2 linked regions of the Homo sapiens genome follow. The gene in region 2 interacts genetically with the main gene of each other region. Each region holds a gene or a part of one and is shown on either strand. Other genes may lie near its edges.

The links.
Region 1: of MELK (region 2) and HDAC4, extra expression of one impairs growth in a mutant of the other (dosage growth defect), as found in Homo sapiens cells (one large-scale study listed by BioGRID).

The regions. Positions count from the first base shown.
Region 1 is NC_000002.12:239,131,816-239,135,634, reverse strand, and holds part of HDAC4 (histone deacetylase 4), read left to right. Parts: intron 1-991; coding exon 992-1,108; intron 1,109-1,191; coding exon 1,192-1,390; intron 1,391-1,396; exon of another isoform or gene 1,397-3,819. UniProt on the Homo sapiens protein: Responsible for the deacetylation of lysine residues on the N-terminal part of the core histones (H2A, H2B, H3 and H4).
Region 2 is NC_000009.12:36,663,270-36,667,088, reverse strand, and holds part of MELK (maternal embryonic leucine zipper kinase), read right to left. Parts: intron 1,740-3,819; coding exon 1,508-1,739; intron 1-1,507. UniProt on the Homo sapiens protein: Serine/threonine-protein kinase involved in various processes such as cell cycle regulation, self-renewal of stem cells, apoptosis and splicing regulation. Has a broad substrate specificity; phosphorylates BCL2L14, CDC25B, MAP3K5/ASK1 and ZNF622.

The sequences.
Region 1 (3,819 bases), on a different chromosome or scaffold from region 2:
AAAGGTTAGACAGATTTTGAAGGCCTTTGACATAGATTGCCAAATTGTCCTGCAGAAAGGGTGCCACTAACTGATTTGTGATTCACCCAACAGTGTTCGCCGTTCCTCTAGGCCAAGATGGTATTACCATGTTTCAAAAGTGTTTGCCAATTTGTTGGGTTTCAGAATACCTTTTTTGATGACCATGATGTGTTTTCCTGAGCGCCTTCCCCTTCCTGAGCTCTGCCGTCACTGGTCCTCACCGCGTGCTTTTCTCACTGTTAGTTGTTTGATTTGCAAGCTCTCTGTGCTGACCCTCGTCTGCCTCATACATGGCCAGTATTGTCATCATTGCCCACCTTTCGTAGAGGCAGTTGTTTTATGATTTTCTCTTTATTTTTAATTTTTGTGGGTACATAATGTATATATTTGTGGGGTACATGAGATGTTTTGATACAGGCATGCAATTTGTAATAATCACGTCATGCGAAGTGTGGGATGTCCATCCTCTCCGGTGCTTATCCTTTGTGTAACAAACAATCCAATCATACCCTTATAGTTATTTTTAAATGTACAGTTAAATGTTATTTCCTTTTTGTTTTCTGCCTTTGATGTTATGTCTGGAAAGACATTGCCAACTACAAAAAAGCATTGTAAACTATATTATCCTAGAAACTGCAAAACGGCATTGTAAACTATATTAGCCTAGATTTCCTTCTAACTGTTCTGTGGTAAATAATCAAACTGAATAGAAATCAACGAGATGATGCTGGACAAGGTGACAGAAGAAGAACTCGTATCGGGAGGAGGAAACTGGAGTGGTGAATTGTGCTTTCATGTTGTGGCACGTGTTGAAATCTCATGCTCTCATTGCTGTCTCATTTGTTACATGTACGTTTACGCTCATATATCAGAATTCAGTGCAGGTGTTTTCATCGTTGTTTTTCTTGGTGTATATTGCTGATGTTTGGCCGTGACAGACTGTGATGGTCATCGTGTGTTCTGTCCCCAGACGAGTTTGGCGCACAGACTTGTGGCACGAGAAGGCTCGGCCGCTCCACTTCCCCTCTACACATCGCCATCCTTGCCCAACATCACGCTGGGCCTGCCTGCCACCGGCCCCTCTGCGGTAAGTCAGCCCCCGTGGGTCCGTGTGGTGTGGGGTGGTGGTGATGGGTCCTTCCACCCGAGCATCCTGGCTGTGCTTTCCAGGGCACGGCGGGCCAGCAGGACGCCGAGAGACTCACCCTTCCCGCCCTCCAGCAGAGGCTCTCCCTTTTCCCCGGCACCCACCTCACTCCCTACCTGAGCACCTCGCCCTTGGAGCGGGACGGAGGGGCAGCGCACAGCCCTCTTCTGCAGCACATGGTCTTACTGGAGCAGCCGCCGGCACAAGCACCCCTCGTCACAGGTGAGCACAAATGGGCCTGGGTGCAGCCAGGCTCTGAGGCTGCCCACGCTCTGGATGGTGCCCCGCCTTCGCCTGCCTTTGGAGGAGACAGGAATGCACGCCTGTCCCACCCCCACAGTTCCCAAACACACATCCCCATCACGTGATGTAGCCACCGTGACTGCAGTGAAAATCCATGCCTCACTCCCAGAGTCAGGTAGATGGAGTGGAAACAGAAGTCACTTCCCCTTTCTCACCTTTTGGGAGAGGCCACCGGCTCTTGCGATTTGGGTTTCTGTCTGGACCAAGCTGAGCCAGCGCTGGAAGCCCAGAACCGACTCTTGTGGTCAGTTTGTGTTAGCGAACTTTTACAAATGTGCACTGTCTGGGGGAGTGGTTACATTTAGAAAAATACAATTTAGAGGAAAATGGGAACGTCCTTATGAAATTACATAGCAACAGCAATGTGAAAGTGTCACTTCAGAAATGAGGGCACACCGGCCGGACACGGTGACTGACACCTGTAATCCCAGCAGTTTGGGAGGCCGAGGCAGGCGGATCACGTGAGGTCAGGAGTTCAAGACCAGCCTGACTAACATGGTGAAACCCCGTCTCTACTAAAAATACAAAAATTAGCTGGGCGTGGTGGCGCACACCTGTAATCCCAGCTACTTGGGAGGCTGAGGCAGGAGAATTGCTTGAAATTGGAAGGCAGAGGTTATAGTGACCCGAGATGGTGGCACTGCACTCCAGCCTGGGCAACAGAGCGAGACTCCGTCTCAAAAATAAATAAATGAGGGAGCAGCTACCTACCCCCTTGCCGTGCGGGTCATCGTTGTACATCTTCATAGCTTTGTGTTTGGCTTCCTGGAAACCTGTTGTTGCCAATTGAAAGCTGAAATACCCTCAGAGCTGCACCTGTGAAACTCTGGCAGTGAACTTGGTGAAAACTCAGGGGCTTGGCGTGTTGTAGGAGGCTGCGCTGCAGGATGCGTGGGGCTAGGGGCTGGCTTGGGTGGGCTTGGGCCTCTGGCTTGACTAGTCTGGTGGATTTTGGTGTTTTCTTGTTTTGTGCTGCCCATGTGTCTCTGTTTAGACAGAGAGGATTCCTTCTTATTCCTTCTTTGCCCAGAAGCCAAATGGCGCAATCTTTGTTTTGTGCCTGAGCCCCTTTCTGTTTGTTTCTCCAGAAGCTTGAATTCGTGTCCCTGCCTGTCCAGAGCAGAGGAGCCCGTGGTGTAACGAGGGAGGGGGCAGCCCTCACAGTGCCTCTCTGAGCTGCGGCCACAGTGGCAGGCACGCGGATCTCTCTGGAGGAATGTATCTGAGGTTGCGTCTGAGTCTCTTGGATGCTCTAGATCAGCTGGCACGAGTGTGGGTAGTGAAGGACACCTGAGTTTCTCGCCTGTCTTTAAAAACGTAAAATGTGCCTGATCTTCAGGATTCCTGGGATTCACTTCGTCAGAGATGTTTGTCACTTATCTTCTTTCCTTCTCTAAATCAGTTTATTCTGCACGATTAAATAGCATGCGTAATCTTGTGTATCAGGTTTTTGGAAAACAGCCTTTTTGATAGAACCTGGATATCGAGTGTGCATGGGTCTCACCTCTCTGAGAAACGCACTGAACTCGGCGTTGCTTCTTCCCTGTGTGCGCTCATCCCTCTTTTCCTCCCAGGTGCAGCTTGCTCGTTGGCATGGGGACCTGCCCACCGTGCCCTGCCCAGGCTCTGTGCCACCAGGGGGCCCATGCATGGTTGCCCAGCTTGCTCTGGCCTTGCTTTACGCCTGTGCCCAGCAAGCCCCTCCAGTCCTATGCCGCCACCTCCAAAACCCTGCAAGCCCCTTCTCTCCTGCACAGCCTCCCCAGGTTGCCAGCAGCTCATCCTGCAAACCCCCTGGCAGGGAGCCTCGGAGCCAGTGTCACGTGTGCAGCGTAGTGCAGCCACACAGCCGCCTCTGTCCCAGCTTTCTCCTGCTCCATGACCCTGGGAAGCCGCTTATGCTCTGTGTGCCTTGTTTTCCCATCTAGGAAGTGGGGATACTAAGCGGTCCGCCCCCGTGAGCCTGATGAGGGTTAAGTGGGCTGTGCACTCATGTGCCCCTGCAGGTGTTGGCATCATTGTTGTAGTCATTGCCTTGTTCTTAACCTGCCACCTCCCATGCTCTCTCACTCCCCCAGCCAGCCCCTGTCCGTCCTCAGTGTCTCAGGGGCCCTCCCCCAGCCCCGCCATGAGCAGGGCCCTCATTTGGAACCCGCTGGGATTGCCCCATCTTCTTGTGGGAAGAAGCCTCCTGTGCAGGTTCCTCCCCTCCGGTCTGTCCTCCTGTATCCACCGGACTCTCCTTGAAGGCCTGGAGGCCCCCACGCTGTCTAGAGCAGTACTGGCCAGGTCAGGAGCCACCAGCCACGGGGAGCTGTTAAATAAATAAGTCAGAATTAGAATTCAGT
Region 2 (3,819 bases):
GCCCAATCTCATGAGTCACAAAGGGTACTGTATTTACAGTAAGAGAAACAACAGAACAGAAAGAGACCCTTTCATTGGGAAAGAATGCAATAGCAGCTACCATTGCAGGGTAGAGGCTATCTCACTGAATTCTCATAACAACCACAGGCAGCGCCACCGCACCCCCCCACACACACACCATCACACACACACACACACACACACACACACACACACACACACACACACACACACAAACACAGACATCATCAGGACACCAAACTGGCCTCACATTTTGGCGGAAAGTGTTATTTGAGTTGATGAAATGGAAAATGACGTTAACATAAAAATGGGACTTCTAGCAAATATTCTGGCAAAGTCTTCCGTAATATCTTTATAGACAAGAAGTTAACCCCTCAAACTGGCTATGAGCTCCATTAGTACACTAGAAGCACAATGGCAGGATGTGGTTTCCCAGCAGTTCACATGGCAATGCTCCAGAGTTTAGGTTTGTTAGAATCTTGAAACTTGAGAAGGTCACAATTGGTGGGGGGAAAAAGGCTAATAAAGTTTAGGTAACATTTTTTAAAGTGACATAAACAGGATCACTGTAAATAAAATTCCTTTGGGCTCTAATTTATTAATTCATTACATAAATATGGCCCCTATTATGTACTAGGCATCAGGTCTAGTACTGTGTACTATGTACCAGACAGGTATGGCCCCTACTACAGACCATGCCATGCTGCAATAAACAAGGCAGAGAGTCTCTACTGTCATGACACTTACCACTCTACCCTAGTGAGACCTAGTCTAGAAAACTCAGTTTAGTTCTAGGCACTGTATTCTAAGAGGCAGTCTGATCAAATAGAATGTGTCCAGATGAGGCCAGCAACCAAAACAGTGAAGTATCATAAAGGAAATGGTTTAAATAACTGCTCATGACTAAATTGAAGAGGAAACCAAGGGAAATGAGGAAGTTGTGATAACTGGACAAAGACAGATATCTGGAAGGGCATCATGGATTCACCCTGCCTGCTGAGGACAGGCAGTAATACCATAGGGCAGAACAGGACCAGACACCACAACTGGAGATCCAGATAAGTAAAGGCTCAGCGGAGGCGTCAGCTTGAGTCATAAGTCGGGGTAAATGGGCATGAAAGGTCTAAACCTGGGTATATGACCTTGGGCAAATCACTTCACTCCTTCTGAGTCTCAGGTTTCTTAGCTGTGAAAAAGGGAGTTGGATTAAATGAGCTCTAACTTGCCTTTCAGCTTTGATATCCTAGGATGCTATGATTCAATTTTATAAACGTGAAAAAGAGGAAAAACTTGGTATCATTTGAGAATAAATTGAAATTGACAAATATGCTTTCATTTTAACTAATGCAAATGACATGATAAAAAACAGCTTCACTTCTCCTAGAAATTCCTGAAAGCAATGCTAGTCATTTCTGACCTGCTATATGTTTACTTAACATGGTAAGAAAAATGAAACTTCTTACTGCTTAATTCACTTAGCAAATACCTTTTGAGGGTGTAGTGTAACGATTTGGCGTAGTGAGTATTTCTCTCTTATGCTGGTTCTTATTAACTGGAGTCTTTGGCTCAGGAAACATAAAGTACTCTTCATTCTTTACAGCAGACTTAGGAGTATATACATTTTCTTTGTTCTTTAATTTATTTGCAGGTGTTCTGCATAAGGCTGGAGTTAATGATTTAGATTCCACCCCATTTGATTCTGTCCAGTACTTGGTAAACTGGAAAAAAAAAGTTACTAGATAAAGCACACTGAAGAAGAAAAGTCAATTTCTTTACAACATTCCTTGATCATTTGCAAACTACCTTGTACTATTTTTATTAAAATGAATTATCAAAAGGATATTATTGACATTAGGAAATTTGAAAATATATAGTTTTCTTTAATACATGTAGATCACTTTAGTCTGTTCTATTGACAGTAATTTTCAACATGATACAGGCTGAGTGTATACACATACTCAGATCCTAGGCAATATTGTGAATGGCCACAAATCAATCACTAAGAAATGCTTTCCATACCTAGATAGTCACGGCTTGCCTCTGACATGTACCAAAAAAAAAGTTTAGTCAGCAATTAGGGCAGAAAAAACATGTTAAACTACTCTAACAGAAATATTGGATAAAAAATACTTTTTAATCCTTTTAAATTTATGGTTGAGCTTGCAAGAGAGTAAGTAAAATCCTGAGAGGCCAAACTAAAAACATGAGAATGAATCCAAAGGAGTAACCAAGGCTGAAACTCTCTGCTGCCCTAAGGGCAGCTATCTTCTGCCTCTGATAACCTATAGCATGTGTTTCTACAGCCACAGAAGCCTTGGGCCTCTGCAAGGTGGTGAGTTAGAACCAAAGCTCCCATGTAAAGCCAGGAAGGGCTATAGCTAAAATTAAAGGCTGAGTTAAATATAAATCTGCTCTTCAAAGGGAATAGGCAAGAAAAAGGGTGTCTTGGTCTTGGTTCTGAGGGAGGAGAAAAATGAAGTTTCTTTTAATAATTTGTAAGTAAACACAGGCCAGTCTTCAGATAAATAAAGGTCCAAATTAATACAACCTGCATGGTCCCAGAAACCTCAAGCCTAAATTTAACTTAAAGTAGTCCTATGCTAAGTTGTGCCCCAGGAACCTGGTAGAAGCACGCACAACTCCTACCTGAAAGAAAAGCTTCACTCCAACCCAACTCAAGCCCTTAACCCAAGCCTCAGATAATTCCCATAGAGTTCAAAGAAAAATAAACCTACATAAAAAATTCCAAAAGACACAAGCACTATGAGCATAAAGATTTCAGATATTAAAATTATCAAATACAGAACATAAATAAGTATGTTTGCATGTTTAAAATAGTGAAACAAAAACATGAGTAAAGAACAAAAGACTACCAAAACTGTTCAAATAGATTTGAAAAAGAATAAAAACTTCTAGAAATAAAAACATGATAAAAATGAAAAGTGCAATGCACATGTCAAATAACAGAATAAAAGAAATAGAGATATTTTAATAGAAATATAAATCCGAAATAACTCTGAATGTAGCCAAGACAGAAAAAGACATACGATACGTGAAAGATGGTTGAAGGAAACAGAAAATGAAATAAAATGTCTAACATAAGGCTATTCTAAGTTCCAGATATACATAGTATGGACAATGCAAAAGCAGCAATTCCCTCTACTTCTTTTCCCAAAGGAAAAGAAATCAATACATCAAAAACATACCTGCACTTGTATATTTATCTCAGTACTTATTCACAATAGCAAAGATACAAAATCAACCCAAGTGTCCATCAACAGATGACTGCATAAAGGAAATGTGAGATAGATAGACAGACAGACACACAGATAGAATACTATTCAACCATAAAAAAGAATGAAATCCTATCTTTTGCAACAAGGTGGATGGAAGTGGAGGTTACCTTAAGTGAAACAAGCCAGACACAGAATGACAAATATTGCATGTTCTCACTCATAAGTGGGTGCTAAAAAAGGGTGTACACGTGGATGTAGAGAGTGGAATGATAGAAAATGTAGACTTGGAAGGGTGAGGAGATGGAAGGGGGTTGGTGATGAGAAATTACTTAAGGGGTGCGATGTACATTATTCAGCTGACACCTTAAAACCTCTCACTTGACCACTATGCATCTAAGAAAATTGTACTTGTACTCTATAAATTTATATAAATATTGTTTTAAAGAAAAGCAGGCTGGGTGCGCTGGCTCACACCTGTAATCCCAGCACTTTGGGAGGCCAAGTCATGTGATCACCTGAGGTCAGGAGTACAAGACCAGCCTGGCCAACATGGTGAAACTCT